Homo sapiens: one gene and its partners. The protein of the gene in region 2 purifies or fractionates together with the protein of the main gene of each other region. This does not show direct contact. Each region holds a gene or a part of one and is shown on either strand. Other genes may lie near its edges.

Region 1 (8,418 bases), on a different chromosome or scaffold from region 2:
CCAGGAGTCAGGGATGAAGGGAGATGGCTACATCTATAAAAAGACAACAAAAAGGATCCTTGTGGTGATGCAATTGTTCTGTATCTTGACTGTGGTAGTGCTTATATAAATCTACACGTGATAACATTATGTAGAACTAAATACATACATGCAAATGACTGCATTAAAGGTGACGAAATCTGAGTAAGGTTGATGGATTGCATCGATTTCAATTTTGTAGTTGTGATGTTACACTATACTTATGCATGAGGCTATTATTGGGGGAAATTAGATAAAGCGTATTATTTCTTACAACTATATGTGAATCTACAACTATCTCAAAATAAAAAGTTAAAAGGGAAAGAAAGAGTATATAAGACCAGCCAATGGTAGAAGTGGAAAAACAAAGCTTTTATTTTTGCTAAAGGCTCAGCAATTGAAAGGATGGAGAAAAAGGTAATGTCAAAGAGTCTACAGGCTACAATTAATAGAATCATCTCTTCCTCCCCTATGGAAACTTAACTTCTCCAGAATTTTGTTTGTCCTTGATTTGACTGTTGTTGTTTTTAACAAAAATAAACTGGATGTACATCTGTCTCTCCACATGCCCCCCAACCATCTCCATCAGCCCAAAGTATAAACTCATAGAGTAGGGTTTGTCTTAACCATCATGTCCTGAGGGCCTGACATACGTGACAGATGAAGGAAGAAGATAGTTGAATGAATTAATAAATGAATGAGATGCCCACATATTATTTTAAAGTTCCTAGCCAATTACAGTTGTAAGGCAGTATGTGAGTGCGGTGGCGCGATCTCGGCTCACTGCAAGCTCCACCTTCCGGGTTCACGCCATTCTTCTGCCTCAGCCTCCCAAGTAGCTGGGACTACAGTCACCCACCACCACGCCTGGCTAATTTTTTGTATTTTTAGTAGAGACGGGGTTCCACCGTATTAGCCAGGATGGTCTCGATCTCCTGACCTCATGATCCGCCGGCCTCGGCCTCCCAAAGTGCTAGGATTACAGGCGTGAGCCACCACACCCAGCCATTCCCTTATAAATTTCTAAAAGCCATGGACATTTAAAAAATAGTGCGGTATAACACACATTTCACTTGCAAGCAGAAATTAACATAATACCCAACATTTGTAAAATGCTTCTGAGTTTATAGATTTTCACATATAATTATTTATTTAATCAGGATTAAGAACTAAGTATACCTAAATTGAAACCACTATACACAAACCTTTGAGAAAAACATTCTAGTCAACTGGTATAACAGGATTTATAACAGCCTTAACGCAAATTGCATTATATGTGTGTGTGTATACCTATATATACACGTGTGTATATATATATTTGTCATATATATTCATTATAAGAATATATCATTCAAATTGGGGGACTTGTGGATCATTTCAACAACCATAAAGACACTTATTTTACAGATGCAAAAACTAAGAGAGGTGAAGTGACTTGTTCAAGGTTAAATATATATCTAGAGTTGGGTCTAGAACCTGAGCCTCTCCAGAGTTCCAATTCATTTCTCTTGTCTGAATTGAACAAGACTCTTCTTTCTTCACCCATCTCACCCCTACCAAAAATACTGAAAGAAATATCTTAATCTAAATCACTTGTGTTTTTAAATAGGGGGTTTTCCAAAAAAAAAAAAAAACCCACAAAATTGAATTTACTCAAGCTTTCAATTGCTGTATTACACCTTCCATGGATTTTTAGTTGTCAAATTATTTCTTATAGCAGGACAATAAGGTACTTTATTCTAAGGTACAAGTATACTAACAGTTTAATGTTTCATCCCCCACCTAAATGGCAGAGAGTGTTAATTCTAACAGGAGTCTTACATGTCTTACACTTTAGCAGTTTCAATCAAAAGATGAGCTATTTTACAATTTAAGGAAGAGGCCTTACACTGTTAAAATCTTGACCGATATGCTCAATGGCAGTACCATCATTGAATCTCCACCTGCTGCCTTACGTATCAAGAACATTTAAAAGTCTTTCTTGTTAGAGACAAAATAAAAGAAAAACTAAGGTGACAAGCGACTATGAGAAATAAGGCTTTAATCAGGTTAAATTTGCATTATGCAGCCTGCATGAATTTAGAGGTCCTAGAATCAAAACACTAGAAGGAACCTTTGATATGCTCTAGTTCAACAGACTGATTTTTGCAGAAGAGGAAACTGAAGCGCTGATGAGACCATTAACTGATAAAGCAAACCGCTTACTTTTTCAAAGGGATTCATTTCAATGCCATTTTACCCTTATTTTGCATCTCACTGTTGTTTCTCAGAGCGACGATTGACCTTTTTTTAGGTGAAAAGAGCGAATAGAGCGTATTAATTTCAAGAGGGTGAAAAATGCCTTTGAAGGAGGAGATGCTGGAGTGAAGAGGAGAAATGACGTCTTATTTAAAATATGTAACCCCTTGATGGGGTTAGACAATGAATCATATTCTCCTAGATTTTTCTATGTCTATAGACATCAGCCACAGTTCTTTCAGGCACTCAAACGAGAGGAAGAGGAAGTGAATAAAGCTCATACTAAATATATAGCACCCACTGAAGGCAGGGATGTAGACAGAAAGAACGGGGGTGGGGGAAGGAAGGAAAGCACGCTTCGCCAGGATCCAGCTGTTTTCTAACAAACCTAAGCCTACGGAAGCTAGGAAGATATCGGAAGCAAGGAAGATATCGGAAGCGACGGCATCCCTCAAATTCGAGAGGGCGGATGCCTCTAGGGCTAGAGAGGCTCCCTAGCCCTCAGTTACAGAGCGACTGGGAGGGGACAAAATGGAGTTGAGGTTTAGGGGCACCCTAAAGGTCGTTTGGAGGTCTAGCAAGCACTTCATGGTCTCCTCCGGAAAGGGCCGTGGCAAAGCCTAGTACCCCGATCAGGAAGATGACTTCTGGCCCTCGGGATGCGGTGAGCGGCAGGAAGAGGCAGGCTGGGGTTCCGAGGACCCCAGAGTCCATCACAGGAGCAGATACAGTGACCTCGGGAATCTTCCCGGCCCCAGCGGAGGCGAGCGGATAGATAGCCCTGGCTCAAGGAAAAAAGCGAGCCGACTCCAGGAGCTGGAATGCCCACCCAACCTCCTCCCGGCTCAGGTGAGGTACGCCAGTCCCCCTCTGGAAATGGGGCCCTGGTACCGACAGGGCAGGGGTGCCGGGGCCGCAACCTCCCCATCCAGGGATACTCACCGGAGGGGCGGCCCACCGCGTCTTCGCAGCCGGCCGGCGCCTGGCACTCGGAAAGCTCGCAAAAAGGAACCGCGTGCCCGCTAGCGCTGGGACGAGGAGGAGCGCGCGGCGGAGGCCAGAGAAAAAGCCGCAGCGGCGCGCGCGCACCCGGACAGCCGGCGGAGGCGGGACTCAGCGCGAGCCCGGAAAAGACGCGCCCGGAGGGGCGGGCGGAGCGGGGGCGCGCGGTGGTGTGGCAGAGCCAGCCGAATCGCTGGCTGCAGACGGCTCGGCCCACCCACGCGCCCGCCCCCGCTCGCCCGGGACGTCAGTCGAAAAGGCGGAGCCGAACGGGCTTCCCGGGGCGCGGGAGGGGCGCTGCGAGGAAGGCGAGGCGGCTAACGGCTCGCCTCAAGTTGTTGCTCCCGCTGGCGATCCGCTTCTGTCAGTCTCGCTGCTGGTGTCGTTGAGTGTGTTTCGGGATGTCCTTGCGCCTAACAGCAGTGAGGCGCAGAATTGGCCCACGCCCTCACCTGCGGCTTGCTTCGCAGGACTCCACCCCAGGATAAAAGTTCCCCTCGGGTCATCTTCCAGCTGCCCTCAAAAGACACTCATTTTTGGGTTTCACTGCTCCTCTTTAAGAGAGCTATCTTGAACACTTTGACTAAAAGCATCTTGCTCCTGTAAGCCTGAACTAATGCCTCTCATCCGTTTATCTTGCCTCTTACTGCGTTAAGATCCCCGCTCACTCCCACTGATGAAATATCACAAGGACGCAGGATTTTCACGTTGTCTTTCATTTCCACGATGGTATCATGGCAAAAAAACCCCCAACTGATAAGGAAAAGTCACCGCAGCTTTGTGACATCTTACTAGCCCTGATCATTGCTTATAAGCCGGTCATACGAATGCTGTTCCAACAGATGCAAGAAATTGCTATTAAAATTAAAATGCCAGCGAACTATCTGAGGGCTTCAAAAGGGACAGACCATAATTGCAAATGAGGCCTGATAAACTGCCAAGAATATATCACCCAAAAAAATAAATCTCAAGAATTCTTCCAGTTCCCTGATGCGTAATGGTGAACTAGCTTCCTGTTCCTGATGGTAATTGACATTTCACTTCACTTGCTGATTTCCATTTTCCCATAGAATTACCATTTGTGCTTGTGTGTGTGTATATATATATGTATATATAAAATGCCTTACCACCTGAGATTACAAGCTAGAGTAGTTCTTCAGTGTGCATCACAATTATCTGGGGTGCTTGTTGAAATGTAGGTACCTGGAGCTACAACCCCCAGGTATTTTGATTCTGATCTGGGTAGGGATAAGAAATTTGAATTTTTAATAAGCAGCCCAGGTGACACTAAAAGTGGTTAGCTGAGAGCACAGAGCTATAGTTTTTGTGTTACTACTCTAAAGCCATATTACCAATTCAATTTCCAAGAAACCCACCCACTTACATATAATATACCTATAAATATTGCTAAGACAGTCATGTAGCTTCCTTTTTCAAGATTGACCTACAAAGTTCAGTACTTCAAACAACGAGTTTAATTGTCATGTTTATTTTATGAAATCTTGTTTTAATACCAGAAATAAGCAATCATATGTCAGGTACGTAATTCACTGGGTAACTATGATGTACAGAGCACTATCACCTACAGTTGGGTTAACACAAATGAAATTGAAGAAATGAATATCGCTGTTCTCAATAAAGTTAGTGTCTAGTTGTGGAATTAAAATATAGATATAATACAAACCCAGTGTAGCACATAAATCAGTGTGCTGGATGAAGATGAAAAAGAACTTGTAATTAAAGAGTACTTTTGCCAGTTTCCTTTATTGTCGGTCTCTTAGCCCAGACATTTTCAATTAGGTAATTTCCTCTGAACAGAGTCTTCAGCTTACTGAAGTTCCTCCAGCTCTACAAGATATAAAGGAAAGAAATCACTATAGCCTGAAACTATCCGTTTTTTGGTATACAAATGTGTGTATGATATACATATAGATATGTTTATCAGACCAAGAAACTACTTGGATTTTCAAGATCTCTTATTACTTAAGCTATTCATTAGTGTGTACAGTTCTGGCTGTCTTCATCACCTACCACATCTCACCTTCTTCCACATTTAACTGCACCCAAGTTGAAGAGGAAAGAAGAACTATACCTCCAAAAAGGAAACCAAGTATAACCACGCTATTTCCAGCTTTCCTTTTTCGGAGTCAAAACAAACCTTGCTTAATTTCTTGTCATCAGAAACCTTCCAGAAATTACTGCCCAGGAGCAAAATATTTCCCAAGCAGCTGTCTGACATTTTAAAGAGAACATTTGCAACGTTGTTTATTAGTTAGGAAGATAGGGTATTATTATCCCTATTTCACAGATGAAGAAATAGATGCAGGTTAAGTGTCTTGTCCAGTCACACAACTAAGTAGTAACAGAGCCTGAATTTCCTACTACACTGCTTATGACTCCTAGACCAGGGTGCTTGCCGCTACATTAAGCTGCCTCTGTAATGAGTCCTACCCAGAACTACCAACCCAATTAGAAATGGAGTAGATAAACGTATGGAAATGGAAGAGTTAGGAAAATGTACAATGCAATTGACAGATTCAAAATGCAATGTAATAAGTACTAAAAGCATGAGAATTAGTCTGTTAGAAGCTAAACAGAATTTAAAGGACAGCTCTGTTAACAGGCACTGATATTTAGGCCTTGCCTATTTTATTATTCTGTAACAAGAAGCTGAAACAGATAGCCAGGCTGCTCTTGGCATTAGTTATTTATGGAAGGGCAGAAAACAACTGTTCTTCATTGACTGTGTAACAAGCCTTTGCGTGTTAAACTTCACGGGTTTGTAGAATAATAATAATTTTCTCCTGTGGTCTAAATACAAGCAGCAGGGCTTCATAATAATATTTGCATTGACAAGTTGTGTTAGATTTTGTCATTAACAAACCTTATTTTTTGCAGACCCAACAACCAGGCCAAATATTGTCTTTAGTGGCTTGTGTTAAACAACCGGTGAAATCAGAAACCTACGTAGATGATCATCTCACTGTGAACATAAATAATAACCTAAGCCACTCCTTTCAAAAATGATCAAAGGCATAGTAGCTACATCTAAATGTTATTTTTGAGAAATGATTTGTTTTTTCAAAATAACTATTTCTTTTCATTCTGGCACATTTTTCAGGTTTTTAAATTAATGGAAACACCAAAACAAATAGACATCTAGTGCACCCAGATAGGAAGACACAGTATTGCATGGAGTCAAGTTTTTCCAAATTAATCCGTCAAGACAGTGTGGTCCACATCAAAATCACAGCAGGATTTTAATGGAACTTAATTTCGGTTTCTCTCATGAAACTCATTTGTCCTTTTTAAAGATAACTACAACACCCTCTAAATAAAATCCTCCACAGTTATCCTTGAAATTGTTTGTGTGACCTTCCCATAAAGAATCAAAAATAACAAAATATTTTTATTATCCATAAGGCCATGAGTATGTGAAAAATCTATTGTGGTTGTCATTGAATCTGTAAGAAAGTTGCCTTTGGTATATTTTTGCCCACTCTCTGTAGTGATTCTAGCCTAGTAATATTACAAAAAAAGATAGGTCATCAATTTCATAACTTGCCTTAAATCTCTTTTTATTATGCTTTCCCTTTAACATACAAAAAGCTTCCAATATGTCCTATTCTTAAAAGACCAGTAAAATAACAAAATTTTAAAATGTCCCTTACTCAAAATCTTCGACTATTAGTGCTGGGAAGCCACTTAGATGCAGAGTAGCACGATGGAAACCATATGGGTTTGGACTTAAGCCAACCACCCTAGACCAAGTTATATAACATTTTCCTGAGCCTCAGCCTCTTCTGTAAATTGGGGATAATAATGGTACCTCATTCATAAGACTCTTCTGAGGGAGGATTAAATGAAATCATGCCTATAAAATTCCTGATTTATGGCAAGTGTGTATAAAATGATGGCTATTAATCACCAAGTTCAACCTCTTCATTTCACAGATGAGAAAAAGGAAGCTAGAACCAGAACAATCTTTCTCCAGATTCTCCTATTCAGTAACTTTCTTTACAACTAAGGACAAATTCCTTGAGAAGTGGTCTACAGCCACTTCATTCACTAAGTCACTATCTGACCTCCAAGTTAATCTCCATTCCCATCAATCCTACAAATATTCCTGTTGCTAATGCCGTCTATGAAATAGACAAACCCCATAATTATGCTTAAATAATTATGGGACTATTTCACTCTGAAACTGAGTGAATAGTCCCCACTGGGACTATTGGACTGATTAAACCTTTGGATATTTATTCAAAGCATCCCTCTTCAAACCAAAATTCTGTAATAAAACTGTCTGCTTCACTTGGACCCTACATGGCACCTGATACAAGCCAAATTACTGTTATTCAAATAAAACATTTTTAACAATATGTTTGAATGAATAATTATTACTTTTAGAAATAGATATAAAAGATTATTAAATATTTTTAATTTTTCTTTTCAAGTTGGTAAGATCTTTAGATTGATAATATTCAATTTTGGCAAGAATATGAAGAAACTTGCACTCATATATTCTAAGTAGGAGCGTAAATTGGTTTGGCCCCTTTATTTTATTTTATTTGTTTATTTTTGAGACAGAGTCTTGCACTGTTGCCCAGGCTGGAGTGCAGTGGCACGACCTCAGCTCACTGCAACCTCTGCCTCCCGGGTTCAAGAGATTCTCATGCCTCAGCCTCCTGAGTAGCTGGGATTACAGGTGCCCGCCCCCATGCCCAGCTAACTTTTGTATTTTTAGTAGAGATGGGGTTTCACCACGTTGGGCAGGCTGGTCTTGAACTCAGAACTCAGGTGATCCACCTGCCTCGGCCTCCCAAAGTGCTGAGATTACAGGCGTGAACCACTGCACCCAGTCTGGCCTTTTTAAAAGACAATTTGGCAGTATCTTTTAAATTTTAAAATGCATATACTCTTTGACATTTTCATGTACAGGGCTCTACTATACAGAGAAACTTGAACAAATACACAAAGATCTATGCACAGGAATAGTAACCAGAGTATTATTTTAATAGTGAAAAATTAATCAAAAATCCCAAGTGTTCATTAATAGGAATGCGGTTAATACCTTATGGCATATCCATACTATGGAATACTGTGTTAGGTTAAAAAAAAAAAAAAGAATGAGGCACAATTATTTAAATATCTATATGCAAA
Region 2 (7,722 bases):
GATAGAGAGGCGGCAGCAATACATTCATTAATACTCTAAATGAGAGTATTTGATGTCCTCTAAGTTTATTCAGGAAGTATCTTATGTAGCTAAGAAACATTTGTAGAGATAAAGGTCTGTTTGATAGCCTGGGGGCAGAGGGATAATGTTTGCTTAATAAAGATGATCGTTTTGGGATGTGCCTTAGAAACTAACAAACTCGCATCTCCTATCCAGTGATCCAGATCTCTGAGCTAAGGCACATAGAGGTCTGTTAGTAAAAAGGGAATGGCAGGTTTATTTAGGTTTGGTTAATACTAGTTTTTTACAGACTATAGGAAGCCTTGCTATTTTGCTTGGAATAGTTTGTTGCAATAGTTTATTCTAAAAACCAGGTGTTGAATTTAATATATGGCAGCTTTTATATTTTTATATAGGATTTATTTCTGTGACCCTAAGCACAAGCAGGCTTTTTTTTTTTTTTTTTTTTTTTTGAGACAGTTCTGTTGCCCAGGTTAGAGTGCAGTGGCGTGATCTTGGCTCACTACAACCTCTGCCTCCCGGGTTCAAGCAATTCTCTTGCCTCAGCCTCCCGAGCAGCTGGGATTACAGGCGCCTGCCACCATGCCCAGCTAATTTTTGTATTTTTGGTAGAGACAGGGTTTCACTGTGTTGGCCAGGCTGGTCTCAAATTCCTGATCTCGTGATCTGCCCACCTTGGCCTCCCAAAGTGCTGGGATTACAAGCGTGAGCCACTGTGCCTGGCCTGCACAAGCAGTTTTTATGTGCCTTCCCTTCAGTTATGTTCGTGCTCCTCAGAATAACCCTGTAAAGTAGGTAGGGAAGTCATCTTCATTTTATAGTTGAAAGACTCAAGACTCAGAAATAAAGTATTCACAGTTTTGTATTAAGTTGGAAAACCAGTACTGGAACCTGGGGGGTCTTCTAACTACTGGCCTGTGCTCTTTAAGCTGCAATAGCTATCCCACTTTGAAAAGAACGTATGAAATACAGTTGCAGTCATGTATACTCCATCTCCAAAGAATGGATTCATTCTTCATGTCATGGTATATTGACTATAATTTTCTGTTTTTAATTACCCAGATTCCAAGCCTGTTTATAGAACTTATACCTGAGGAATGGTGAGGATTAGAAGAGGCCGCAGTCCTTGAGGTTTTCTTTGATGATAATATCTGTAACTGCATCAAACACAAATTTGACATTCTGTGTATCTGTAGCACAGGTCATGTGACTGTAGATTTCTTTGACATCTTTTCGCATATTGAGGTCAAGGAACTGGCTCTTTATGTAATTCCCCGCATCATCATAGGAGTTGTTACCTGGTTTTCCAGAAAAATAGTGAAAAAGTAGAATAAATGAACCCTTGTTAGTTGCTGACTCACTTTAGGTGATTGACTTGATCCTTGAAATGTTATTAGACAACAGCAGTTGGGGGCCTATTTTTGGAGGGAAGATTCTCTATTGCACTCCAGTGTTTCTCACTTTAGTTGAAAAGAAATTGAGGAGAGGTGTCTTTCCACCTTTGGTTTTCAGTAGGTATCATATGAAGTCAGTGGCTCTCCTGCATCTAATGCCTGCTGTATTCCAGAGTATCTGAATTTAAACCCTGTAACTGTGCCCAAGGTTCTCCCTTAAGTTCCTTTGTGTCATCTTGGCCTAAAAAATGAGACAATTGCCAGTCTCTACTAAAAGGCATTATTATTATTTCCAGCCCCTGACACTTACCATCATACTCTGGAAAACAAATGCTGAGATGGACTTTCTTGATTTTTTCCTCAAAGAGGTCCTTCTTGTTGAGAAAGAGGACAATGGAAGTAGCCGCAAAGAATTTGTGGTTACATATGCTGTTGAACAGATGCAAAGACTCATGCATACGATTCTAGTAAGAGGAAACACCATTGGAAATATCAGATTTGGCTTATAGAATATCTACCTACTTCCTGCTCTTGTTCCCCTTGGAGAGACCAGTGCTCCAAATGTAAAAAGCAAGACAGAGAACAGCTTATCTCAATGTACCAGAGTAAAGCCAGAGAGATGTGGGATCATTCTAGTTCCCTATCTTTCTAATAGCTGTGTGACTTGTGGAAAATTATTGAGCTTTTTCTGAGTCTGTTTTCCTATCTTATAGGGTTACAATGAAAGCTAAATGAGATTGTGTATGTATATTGTCCATGATAGTGGCTGGCATATAGGTCTATAATGTGTTATGCAGATCTTTAGCAGCCAGGATGCAACTGAGAACTTGACATTTTATAAGTAGTGCTGATAATGGGTTGAAACAGGCCCAAGTTAGCATGTGCCCATATGCATCTCCAGGATGATTTTGATAGGCTTCTTTCATGGGGTCCCAGATCTCAGTTTGGGCTACTTTGGTCCTGCTGCCACATGGTGAGAGTTAGAGAATTTCCCAGTGCCATACCACAAGCATTTCTGCTCTCTCATTTCCTTCTCTGATTGCTACTTAGCGAGAAGTCGGGCTGCATATCTGCAGAGGCTGCCCATTGCCCCAGCCCAGCTTGCTTTTAGGGAGCAGGTCTTTAGGGTTTTGAAGTATACTATCAGCTGACTTGCGTTCAGTCTACTTATCTAATAAAGCAAGAACAATCCCATTTGTGGCTTTTTCCCCATAATACTCCTGTACAACCCTTTAAGGTCTCATAGACTTGTTTTATTAATGTCTCATAGACTTTAATAAACCTCATAGACTCATAGACTTTAGGGTTAAAGATGGAAAGTCTCATAGACTGTAATCTTTAGGCTTAAAGATGGGAAGTGAATAGCTCTGTAAGACATTTTGATTAGACGATATTCAGAGTGCTCTAATGTGAAGTTAAAACTACCAAAGGGAAGGGAAGAGAACAAGCTGTGGCAAGGGATAGGAGTATCCCTTTCATCAGCAAGCTGTGGACCTCCATTTGTAAGCAGATGCTTGGGTGAAATTAACATTTTTCACGCCTCTAACCTTTCCCAAATTCAGAGGTCATCAGCAAGGTGTGGACCTCCATTTGTGAGCAGATGCTTGGGTGAAATTAACGTTTTTCACGCCTCTAACTTTTCCCAAATTCAGAAAGCAGATGCTTGGGTGAAATTAACGTTTTTCTCACCTCTAACCTTTCCCAAATTCAGAAACTGGCTGGGCTCTAACACTTGTCCTATAGAACTCCTGTCCTACAGAATTCTACAGGCTAAAGAGAACCACTCTTGGGTAGTCTTCCAGCTGCCAATTTAATTGGCATGAGAGAAAGCTGGTCTGCCAGTCTCTCCTTAAACTCCTACGGACAGTACATTTTTAGCCTCCTAAGTGGGGTTACTAGCTCAACCCTTCTATTATGTTGCAATGAAGATTCATATCATATGTTATTTTCTCTGTTCTGTCATTTTCATCTCCTTCCTTAGGCAATTTGGGAGAGTACTAAGTGTAACTCCTTTGCTTTGCCTAGTTGATGGTCCCTTATCTCTTTGCACTCAATTCCTCTTATGAGCTTTGTGATGTCCAAGTGATACTTAGATGTCTAATTTGAGACCAAGCTCACTGTCAGTAAATTTGGAGCTCTAAAATGCTAATCTAGAACCTGCAGAAGAAGTTGTTTTTTAGAATTATTTGCATGAGACATTGATTGGTCTGCTGGAGGGCTGCTAGACTGAAATTACCTAAGTTGGGGCAGTAGAGTGACACAAGGCTTAGAGAAAGGGTCATGGGGAGAACTTGTTCTACCAAAGCTGCTTGATGCAAAGGCCACTCACCACTTCGTCATCTTCCACCAGCACCATATCATAGGCACTGAGGGCTGCACAGAAAATGATGCAGGTGACTCCCTCGAAGCAGTGGATCCACTTCTTTCTCTCGGATCTCTGCCCTCCCACATCAAACATCCTGAGGGAAGAAGCAGCTATTTTCATAGGTATGCCCAACATACGACCTATATGCCTTTGATGGTCACCCCGTGAAGTGGGAGAGGAAAAGGGGGAGAAGCAGAACAGTAATTTAGATTAGGCTTCACCAAAGGCCAAGAAGCCTGCCTGTGCCCCTTTTCAGGATTCCACACGTGTATCCGAGATGCCCTAGGGAACCATGCACTTACCTGAAATTCAAGTCTTTGACGGAAAACTTGGTTTCAATGATGCCCGTGGTTTTGACTCTGGATCGGAGCACATCTTGCTCACTAGGGAGGTACTCAGGGTCTGTAATTCGTTCTAATTGGTTCAGGTAGCTAGAGAAAAGTGATTAGCATCAATGACAAATTTTCCACAGACGAGGCTAAGAGACGTAAAAGGTATCTTACCCAAAGTCACACAGCTAATTTGGTGATAGAAATCAGGACTAGAAGCCATATTGTTAAATTTAGGATTCTTTCCTTCAAACCTTCATATGTCATTAACTAGAGGAAATGGGGGATGGACTGAGGGACAAGCCCATTTGAGGCTGGAGTTCCAGCGCATTTAAATCAAGTTAGATAAGTTTTCCTTGGGTTTGCCCTGACTGCAAGCTTTTGTAGATTTTTGAATGAGATTTAGTGGGTGCTAAAAGTTCCATCAAGAGGCAGTAAATTGAAAGAGACTTTAAAGACATGAACCAATGCAACACATGGACTTTGTTTATATCCTGAATCAAACTGGGGAGGAAACATTTGAGATAACTGGGGAAATTTGAACACCGACTTGGTGATATTTGATGCTATTAAGGAATTGTTAACTATTTGGGTGTGATTATATTCTTTTTATAAAAAGGGTCAATATTTTAGAGATCCATAATGACATTTTTAGGATGAAATGATACCTGGAATTTGCTTCAAAATAATCCAGTAGGGAATGGAGGTAAAAAGAAATAAGATTGGCCATGAGTTGATAACTGTTGAAGGTAATTCATTATGTTATTTCTACTTTTGTATGTTTGAAAGTTACCTTAAAAAAGAAAAAGTTATTTTTTTTAAAAAAAAAAAAGGTGGCCAGGCACGGTGGCTCGCGCCTATAATCCCAGTACTTTGGGAGGCCGAGGCGGGCGGATCACAAGGTCAGGAGATCGAAACCATCCTGGCTAACACGGTGAAACCCCATCTCTACTAAAAATACAAAAAATTAGCTGGGCATGGTGGCGGGCGCCAGTATCCCCAGCTACTTGGGAGGCTGAGGCAGGAGAATGGCGTGAACCCGGGAGGCAAAGCTGGCAGTGAGCCGAGATTGCGCCACTGCACTCCAGCCTGGGTGACAAAGCGAGACTCCGTCTCCAAAAAAAAAAAAGGCAAGAGGAAGGCAGATGTGAACTGAGATGACTGAGAGGAGGAGGGAAGTACAAGTAACACAAGTGCCTATTGTATGCCAGGCATTTTAATGTTCAGATTCTCGTTTAAACTCCTAAGCCATCAAGTTTCATATCCCCATTTTACAGATGGAGAAATTCAGAAGAGTTAAATACTTGGCTAGGGTCAAGAGAAATTGTGGTGTATTATGAAAAATATTCAGCTTTGTAGTCAAGCAGCCCAATGCAAATGCAGTCTCTGCTATTTATCTACATGACCTTGGGCAGTTAATTAACTTCTCTGAACTTCAGTTTTTCCATGTGTAAAATGAGGCTAATTAGAAAGGTACCATCTACCTTAAGGTCTTACTGCGTAGATGGGTAAAGGGCGTTGAGATGGTATACACAGTACACCTAGCAGTGACTGGGCTTTGAGTGCTCCGGGAACAGTAAGTGATAGCATTATTACAAGATTAGGAGACAGATGGTTAGGTTAAATAAACTCAGGTTTGACTTTGAAGCCCATACTTGTCTATGATCCCATACTGTCTGAGGTAGGATTGATAAATTATGTCCCTTAGCTTTTTGGAAGCAGCTTTGCAATGATGGTACTAATTCCTGACCACCTTCCCTTGGTTTGCCCTTGTAGTTTGTGTCCCCTGCCTTGGCATCGTGACATAAGATGCTCTAGGTGTAGGAGACTCATTTCTGCTTAGTGGCCTAAGTAGATCCTAGATTACCAGATAGAAAATTCTGCCCTGAAAGAGCCATCATGAATCACATTACTCCTGCGAGAGTGTATGACAGAACTGCAGGGCTATCTTAGGGTTCTGGAAGGAGAGGCTTAGTGTACACCTCAATTAAGAGAACAGGGCTGAGGGCTACTAGGCAGAACACGTCTTTTGAATTTTGCATCTTCAGCCTTGTAGGCTGTAGTGAGCCAGTGTAAAGCAATAGAAAGTCATGACAACTGTGGCAGATCTCCCCATAGCATTAAATTCAAAACATTGCTGAAGCCTAACAAAACAGATCCACAGGCTGAATTCAGTCTGGGTCTCCAGCTTTCAATGCCTGAAATTTTGGGTTGGGTGAGGTTTCTCCCAACCAGAGAGAAGACTGGCTAGAAGATTGCTTAAGCATCAACCCACCCTCTCACCAGTCAGTCTTACTAAGATGCGGAGTCATTAAGCTGGTATTCTGCAGCTCTCTCGAAGCAGGCTTGCACCCCACCATCCTTCCACAACCTCCTAATGACCTCCACGAGCTCAGGAGGCATGGTTCCCTCCTCAATGGAGTCAGCCAGGTTGTTGAGCTGTCGCCCGTCATCCTGTAATGCAGAAACCTGGTTAAGAACTTCACAGGAGTAATAGCTTTCCAGGAGGCTTCTGGGAATACTGCTGAATGGAAATCATTTTACATTACTACGAAGACCTAAGATGGAAGCAGTATCCAGTGAAGATTCTATGTAAGAAAACATACTGTTGAATTTTTGAGTATGCTCCCCAGATGCAGAGGGTGGCACTATACCCAGCCCTGGGGTGTGTCTAAAGCGGGGCAGGGGTCCCAGGTATTTCCTCTCTGGAGTTTCTGGCTTCCATCCTTAGTCTGAAAGTTTACCGCCACAAAACGTGGGTCCTCTGCTGCAGAGAGACTGAAAATGTAAAGGCCAGATTGACCATGAAATAGACAAGATAGAAGACAGGGACCCATCACCTTTGTTCTTCAGCGATTGAAAGCTAGAAAAAGTCCAGTACTAGAAGTAGGGATTTCACTTACAAAAGTTCCATGGCCAGGAACCCAAGGGTAGCAATTTAAATGGTAAAGTAAAAAAGCAGAGGAAGCTGTGAGCAGCTTTATTTTGTAAATATGTGTTATAAAGTAGGGCTTGAGGACAGGCACGGTGGCTCACACCTGTAATCTCAACACTTTCGGAGTCTGAGGCAGGAGGATTGCTTAAGGCCAGGAGTTTGACACCAGCCTAGACAAGATGGCAAGACCCCTTCTCTACAAAAAAATTTTAAAAAATAGCTGGGTGTGGTGGTGCACACCTGTGGTCCCACCTACTGGGGCTGAGGTGGGAGAATCACTTAAGCCTGGGAGGGTGAGATTGCAGTGAGCCATGATCACACCACTGCATTCCAGCCTGGGTAAGAGAGGAAGACCCTGTCCCAGTAAAAATAAGGGTGGATGTTGCTTACTTCTCCAGGACTGCATAATTGTGGTGTATTATGAAAAATATTCAGCTTTGTAGTCAAGCAGCCCAATGCAAATGCAGTCTCTGCTATTTATCTACATGACCTTGGGCAGTTAATTAACTTCTCTGAACTTCAGTTTTTCCATGTGTAAAATGAGGCTAATTAGAAAGGTACCGTCTACCTTAAGGTCTTACTGCGTAGATGGGTAAAGGGCCTTGAGATGGTATACACAGTACACCTAGCAGTGAGATCCCACCCAGCAGGTGGGATTTTAGTTACTATTTTTCTTAC
Region 3 (7,722 bases), on a different chromosome or scaffold from region 2:
TTTTCCAATGCTTTGGCAGAGTTCGTTGCTAAATAAACTTCAATCTGACATTTCATGATGAATTTCAACTATGAAAAACTGTTATGAATACTGCCATGTACACATTTTAAAAGAAAGTTACAAATATTAGAATATTCACCTTTAAACCCTATCAGTATTTCATAGCATGTGTTTTAAAAAACTAAAATTTAACATAAATTAAAAACTATCTTAAAAATTCAGCAACGAATCAAAATGATGTGAATATATTCTTTTTTTTCTTTTGTTATCATCAGAATTTGTATTGATAGAGGAACTCTGACTATGCCCAACGAAGGCAAATACTTTTTTGAAGGCCATAAAATAGTAACATCAGGAAGAAGATGCTTCTGGTTACTATCACATGAATAAATCCAGATCTGTATCATCACTAAAGAAAATACTAAATGGCTAAAGACCAGAATCATTTATAAATAAATGCAATTCATTTCTAACTTGGGCTGTACCCCCAACATCTGTTTCTAAATTAGTTTTCCTGATAACAGATTTTATTTTCCCATAATAATTCATGTCAACTGTCGTAGACAGGTCCCCAGCTGCCTCTTCATCATCATGAGGTGGGGAGGCTGTGTGTTTAGGCTGCAGCTTAACACAGCTTACATAGGAGCCCCAAGACCTGCCTGGAGTGCCGAGCAGGCTCAAGTGTAGAGCAGGAGTAAGTAAGCAGCACACTCCTCACTGCCACTTCTTTACTCCCCATTCCTCTGGAGTAGTTCTGTGAAGCTTCCCCTGCTGAGGGACAGGTAGGTAGGGGTACCAAGGCAGCAGGAAGGAAGGTTTTATTTTCTTCACCTCCCTCCATGGGACACTGCAGTGAGACGTAAAGCAGAAAACAGGGACAGAGAGAAAGATCAGGGGAAGCCTTACAAGGAAAAGAGTCAGCTAATGGCTGCAATGAGAAGGAGGCCATTCCCACAAGTAACAGATAGGAAGAGTTCTCGGAACATTTTTACAAAGAAGGTCCATACAGGTAGGAAATGTCTATGGACATCAAATATTTTAAGTAAAAGTAGTATGAATTCCACGTTCTTACCTGTTTGCATATGCACAAATGTTATCTACTAGTGGAAGATTCTTCAAAGCTGCCTCTACTTTCCCAAGAGAAACATATTCCCCTGCCTGTAGTTTTACAAGGTCCTTTTTACGATCTGCAAAACAAAGAAAGGTGGAGAGGGGAAAACAATGAGTAATAATATTAGTAACATTTAATACATATATAAATACTGGCCATTCTCTAAGTAATTTGCTATCAAATTATTTAAAACTTTGCAAAATTAAGCATTAATGGTTATGCTGAAATTAAAAGCACATATTAAAATTAGGCCCTAATTTTTGTACTGCTAAATACATGCTTTTTTTTTTTTTTTTTTTTTTTTGAGACGGAGTCTCGCTCTGTCGCCCAGGCTGGACTGCGGACTGCAGTGGCGCAATCTCGGCTCACTGCAAGCTCCGCTTCCCGGGTTCACGCCATTCTCCTGCCTCAGCCTCCCGAGTAGCTGGGACTACAGGCGCCCGCCACCGCGCCCGGCTAATTTTTTGTATTTTTAGTAGAGACGGGGTTTCACCTTGTTAGCCAGGATGGTCTCGATCTCCTGACCTCATGATCCACCCGCCTCGGCCTCCCAAAGTGCTGGGATTACAGGCGTGAGCCACCGCGCCCGGCCCATGCTTTTAAAAGAAAAACAGGCCAGGTCCAGTGGCTCATGTCTGTAATCCCAGCACTTCGGGAGGCCGAGGCGGGCACATCACTTGAGGTCAGGAGTTCGAGACCAGCCTGGCCAACATGGTGAAACCCCGACTCTACTAAAAATACGAAAACTAGCTGGGCGTGGTGGTGCACACCTGTAATCCCAGCTACTCAGGAGGCTGAGGCAGGAGAATTGCGTGAACCCAGGAGACAGAGGTTGCAGTGAGCTGAGATGGTGCCACTGCACTCCAGCCTGGGCGACAGAGCAAGACTACATCTCAAAAAAAGAAAGAAAGAAAAACAATTAACTTCTACTTAATGGACTCCATTAGCAGGGCTTCAAGTATGTTCTTCTGAACAGGTTTATTTCTGGTATCCATTAGTACCAGGCAGGTGAAGAAGATATTCAATGCCATCTGCAAGTTCACAACCTATCTGGAGACATGCATAATGCAAAAACGTATTACTTCAATACATTGGTACTACAATGGTAGCGCTAAGTGTTAAGACTCTCCAACCTGGGGATTTGGAAAAAATTCTTGCAAGTGAGGCCTGAGCTGAGGGTTGGATGGTTGGTTGGTTTTGAGATTTTGAGACAGGGTCTCACTCTGTTGCTCATACTGGAGTGCAGTGGCACAATCACGGCCTCCTGGGCTCCTGTGATACTCCCACCTCAGCCTCCCGAGTAGCTGGGATTACAGGCCTGAGTCACTATGCTCAGCTGCTTGAGCCGAGTCCTAAGGGAAAAGTGAGAGGTCAGGTGCAACAACACTGGCAAAAGCCAGAAGAACATCAGCTCTAATTTCAGCTGCATCAAGGAGGAGGAGGAAAACAACTGACGATGAAGGTGAAGAGGGGAACAATGTTAACAGGGGCACCCTGAACTGAGCTTCTAGGAGACATTAAATGGTTGTGGCCAGTAAGATCCATGTTTAGTAATTACATGGTGGCAGTGAGAGGGTGTGTTTAAGGGGGTAAACATGGCAACAGAGAAATTATTGGGAGAGGGTGGCAGAAGGTACAGGCCTGACCAATGATCAAGTAAGAGAGACAAAGAGAGAAGAGTATGATTTTGAGACATAGCTCATAAAATAAACTAGTGGGATATAAAATAGGCATGGGAAGCTGACTGAAGAGAACAGTCTTGAGTCTCCTCCCAGGTTTCTAGTTAGCAAGACAGGGATAGAAATGCCATTAACTTTTTTTTTTTTTTTAGACAGAGTCTTGCTCTGTTGCCCAGGTTGGAGTGCAGTGTCGCGATCTCCGCTTGCTGCAAGCTCTGCCTCCCGGGTTCATGCCATTCTCCTGCCTCGGCCTCCCAAGTAGCTGGGATTACAGGTGCCCGACAAAGACACCACACACGGCTAACTGAAATGCCATTAACTTTTAAAAAAAAAGAACCTAAAAGGAGAAGCAGAATAAGGTATTTTTCAACCCATATGAGTCATAGTACTTGAGCTGCCTGGCTTTCCTCTATTCTCCTGGGCAGGGCAAGGCAAGGGTGCAGTTCAGACTGTGAGAGCTCCATCCACTAATCTCTAGATGTCAGAAACACAGGCAGGAAACAATGACTGAAGGTTATCTAAGAGTAATTTAAAATACCACTGCTGCTGAACCATCTTTGAGAACTCATAACATGTCAGGCCTCATAAATTCCACAGTCCGTAATATTTTATATTCCAGGAGTGATGCAACAACCCAAACTAAGATTACATAAAGATTTATATTATTCAGCGCCTCCTCTAAATATATTGTGCTTCTTGTGTAAACTATTTCAGAAACATTCATTTTCAAAAAAATATTAGATGACTTACCAATAATCTTTAAGCATCCATCGGGTTCAAACTCTCCAATATCCCCAGTACAGAGCCACCTTTGTCCATTTTCATCTTCAAAGAAATCAGCTTTTGTTTTTGCTTCATTTTTGTAGTACCCCATTGTCACACTTTGGCCCCCAATAAGAATTTCACCCCTGGGGTGTGGCTTATCAGTATTAAAGTATCCACCTAATAAAATAATAATTGAGTTAATAGTTGAGTTAAATACAACACATGAAAATTTGAAACTACTAGTTTCTAAACAGTCATCTTATTTTAATCCAATTAGAACTTCCCAAAGGAAAAAAGGCAGACACTATGAATGAACAAAGTTTATCAATTTAACAGTAGGCACAAAATCTCAGTTGCTAAACCATAAGTATTTATGTTTTCAAACTTCTATTCTGAGAAAAAAATTAAACTCTAAAACCCAACATCTTCCATTTGTTGTATAAAATTATAAATACAAGAGACAAATTATTTGAAAGATTCTGCAACATCTTAAATATCATATTGATAAACTGACAGAAGTATTAAGTCATGCAATTAATAGAACAAATCCCTATATAAGAATGAGTTACTGCTGGGCCAGTGGCTCATGTCTGTAATCACAACACTTTGGGAGGCCAAGGAGGGTGGATCGCCTGAGGTCAGGAGTTTGAGGTCAGCCTGGCCAACATGGTGAAACCCCACCTCTACTAAAAATACAAAAAATTAGTCGGGCATGGTGGCGCACACCTGAAATCCCAGCTATTAGGGAGGCTGAGGCAGGAGAATCACTTGAACCCAGGAGGTGGAGGTTGCAGTGAGCCGAAACCATTGACACTGCACTCCAGCCTGGGCAACAAGAGCAAAACTCCGTGTCAAAAAAAAAAAAAAAAAAAAAGTGAGTTACTACATATTAAGATTTATTCTTATAGATAATTTCAAAATGACTCCAAGCCTAAATTTATTAAATATTCCCACTAATTCTGCTAAAGATAGCTAAAAGACATCCAAGCCTTAGAATCTTTCTTTATTTATTTATTTTGGAGATGAGAGTTTCGCTCTGTCACCCAGGCTAGAGTGCAGTGGCGCAATCTTGGCTCACTGCAACCTCCACCTCCCGGGTTCAAGTGATTCTCCTGCCTCAGCCTCCCGAGTAGCTGGAATTACAGGCACGCACCACCACGCCTGGCTAATTTTTGTATTTTTAGTAGAGACGGTTTCACCATGTTGGTCAGGCTGGTCTCGAACTCCTGACCCCATGATCCGCCCGTCTTGGCCTCCCAAAGTGCTGGGATTACAGGAGTGAGCCACTGCGCCCGGCCAGAATCTTTATCTTTACTTAATGTAGAGGAAAGGTGCATCCCAATAAAACACAGATAATTTGTATATTTTAACAGGATCAAATAAATTTTTAAGTGACCATTATTTTAAATGGCATGAGAATAAACAGACTTCTATGGAATTGCAGTGAAAATTTCCTTCTAATAATACAAGGTTGAAGCCCTCAGAAAAAAAAAGAAAAAAATCATTTAAAAATCCACAATTTCATAAAATAAATTTTATAATTTTACTTCTGCAAAATAAAGTTATGATCACTCCTAATTTATTGACATTATTCACTTATTAGTACATTTCTCAAGTTTTTGCCATAATTCTTACTTGCATCTACGTAATAAGTAAAATGAAAACAATAATAGTTCTTCAGAAACATCTTTGAAACAAGAAAAATAAATGCATTCATATAGTTCGAGATAAAACACGTCTATCACAAAGGACAAAAATGAGCACTTATGGGTGTTTACATTCTAAAGCAAGAAAGTGAAGCACTAATTTTCAAGTTTAATACTTTAAAAATTAATGCTCTGTGGTTAAAATAGTTTATTACCTTCCTCCCAGTTTTTTAATTTGATTTCACAGCAAACTAATGGTGCTCCCACTCTGCCAGTATTGTAGTCCCACACTAGGAATTAAATGAAAAAAAGGATATTTGAGAACAGTAGCTAATACACTGCTTCATTTTTCTAAATTACCAAAAATGATTATTTATCCTAAGGCTGAGGTATCCCCAGCTATTCCTTAAAAGCAGAAGTCACATATTGGTGAAGCACAGGCCGTGAGGCCTGTAGAGTCGTATTTTTTGGCCTACATTGAGGTTTTTTTTTTTTTTTTAAATTAGTTATTGTCATTCTTAAAAAATCAGGAAATTTTAGATGTAAGTGTGGAATCGCCAGCAACAATGGGCCCACATTTCAGGTACAGCAGAACTGACGGCCTCTGTTAGAGAGGGCATGCCTGCTCCTGTTCCCTCAGAATCAATCCTTACCCATCACATTGTCTTACATTAGGGCCCACTTGACTCATTTAAATAGGTAGCTGCCTGGTTCTTGAGTTTGAAATCCCTGTCTTAAAGGATGATGAAAACAATGGTTTACGTCTATTCTACTTTCTTATTAGGCCTCACCGATGTGCAGTATAAAACACCTCTCTAATCTTTTCCCATGTAATGTATCACCATTTCAAAGTGAGATCTCTGCAGGCTTCCATCAGCTTATGCTATCACACCCTATTTAAAATTAATACAGCAATAGCTCAAGAGCCAGGCTGAAGAATAAGACTGGTGGCTTTCAAGGATGTGAGGAAAGAACCCTCCACTATTATGAATTACTATTGCATTATGTTTCCTCTTCAAAGACCAAATATCAGAAATGAAAGGCTGATATTTAACATTTTAAAGACTTTTATTTAAAACATAAACTGTTACTGATTAATCATTCAATTTGAATCTTAAAAATAGAAGAAATTAAGGATCCTCAGAAGAAAGAAATCCCCTATGCATGTATTTAAGATTGCTTATTTCCTACAAAACATGACTTAGAACTAGCTTCCAAAAATATACGAAAACAGAGAACATAACTGAAAAACAGAAAAATGAAGTAATACATGAAAATGGTATACAGAGCCACTCAAAATAAATAGGGAAAAATCAGTCATGAGGTTTTGTATCTATCCGTATATGGCAAATACAAAGTAGGAGAAGCACAGCTGTATCCTGTACCGGAAAGCAAAATAACTTTCTCCCATAAAAGGGACGCATGAGGCCCTATGCGATTCATCTCAGAACTGCTGATTAGTTGGTAGATCTCCTCCTCAAACACAACCACATGATAAACTCTGGTAATAATATTCCCTAGACCAGAACTTAGTTCCTTCTCTAACACTTACAGAAATCCTCATAAACATTTCTGAACCTGAGCCTTAATATACTCACCTACACAAATAAACAAAAGCACCTTAAGTTTTCTACATAAAAAGAAATTTAATCACTGATGTGAGAAAATAAATGTACACAAAACAGTCAGTGTTTGTTACTAAAGTTTCTCTTCCAAAATGCTAAGTGGTTTTTAATATTACCTATCAGTTTGATATAAAAACTTCTCCAGATAAATTATTGACTCCAGATGCATCTAATACATTCTAAAAATTGATATCAATGATCATAGTACTTGGAATCCACCATTATTCTGCCTCACAAACACCTTACTACTCTTCTCCTATATATTTGCAGAAAATATCCCATACCCCAAAAAAACGTCTGGCATCACACTCCAGCCTCTGACCATGGAGAACACTACCTTCGGAAATTGTTCCAGCCCCAGCAGATTCAGTGAGCCCGTATCCCTGACCAACAGGACAGCAGAAACAGATGTTCATGAATCGCTGCGTGGTTGCAGAAAGTGGAGCGCCACCACACAACAGGAGACGAATATTTCCCCCTAGCAAGCTTCGAACTTTCCGGAAAACAAAGCTAAAGAAAAAAATTAGAGAACCACAGGATTTTAAAACTGAATGGGATTTTCCAAATCACTTAAACTAATCCCCCAGTTTTGATATGAGAGATTTTGAGATTAAGTTACTTATCCAAGGTCACACAGCCAATTTGGAGAGTCTCTTGAGCCCCAAATGTTAATTTTTTGAAGTTCAACAAGGTAAAGAATTTATTATTTCCTCTTAAGAGCTTTTCAAGTGATATTCGAATTTGAATTGTCAGGTTTAGTTTTGTATAGTGACAGGAAAACCCTTGCTTATGGCCACTTTTATATCATTATTTACATAAAATATTTATCATATATTAATACTGAACAATTCTATCATCTTTATGAAATGTATTAAAATCAAATTAATTTTTGCTTT

The links.
Region 1: the proteins of GNAT2 (region 2) and ACSL4 purify together in Homo sapiens (affinity purification with mass spectrometry; 3 studies listed by BioGRID and IntAct, with this or other methods). This does not show direct contact.
Region 3: the proteins of GNAT2 (region 2) and ACSL3 purify together in Homo sapiens (affinity purification with mass spectrometry; 3 studies listed by BioGRID and IntAct, with this or other methods). This does not show direct contact.

The regions. Positions count from the first base shown.
Region 1 is NC_000023.11:109,729,941-109,738,358, forward strand, and holds the start of ACSL4 (long-chain-fatty-acid--CoA ligase 4), read right to left. Parts: upstream 3,318-8,418; 5' UTR 3,199-3,317; exon of another isoform or gene 2,571-3,198; intron 1-2,570. UniProt on the Homo sapiens protein: Catalyzes the conversion of long-chain fatty acids to their active form acyl-CoA for both synthesis of cellular lipids, and degradation via beta-oxidation. Preferentially activates arachidonate and eicosapentaenoate as substrates.
Region 2 is NC_000001.11:109,602,226-109,609,947, forward strand, and holds the end of GNAT2 (guanine nucleotide-binding protein G(t) subunit alpha-2), read right to left. Parts: intron 6,564-7,722; coding exon 6,406-6,563; intron 4,212-6,405; coding exon 4,083-4,211; intron 3,875-4,082; coding exon 3,745-3,874; intron 1,880-3,744; coding exon 1,726-1,879; intron 1,320-1,725; coding exon 1,129-1,319; 3' UTR 866-1,128; downstream 1-865. UniProt on the Homo sapiens protein: Guanine nucleotide-binding proteins (G proteins) are involved as modulators or transducers in various transmembrane signaling systems.
Region 3 is NC_000002.12:222,926,631-222,934,352, reverse strand, and holds part of ACSL3 (fatty acid CoA ligase Acsl3), read right to left. Parts: intron 7,337-7,722; coding exon 7,164-7,336; intron 5,492-7,163; coding exon 5,417-5,491; intron 3,733-5,416; coding exon 3,541-3,732; intron 1,188-3,540; coding exon 1,073-1,187; intron 1-1,072. UniProt on the Homo sapiens protein: Acyl-CoA synthetases (ACSL) activates long-chain fatty acids for both synthesis of cellular lipids, and degradation via beta-oxidation.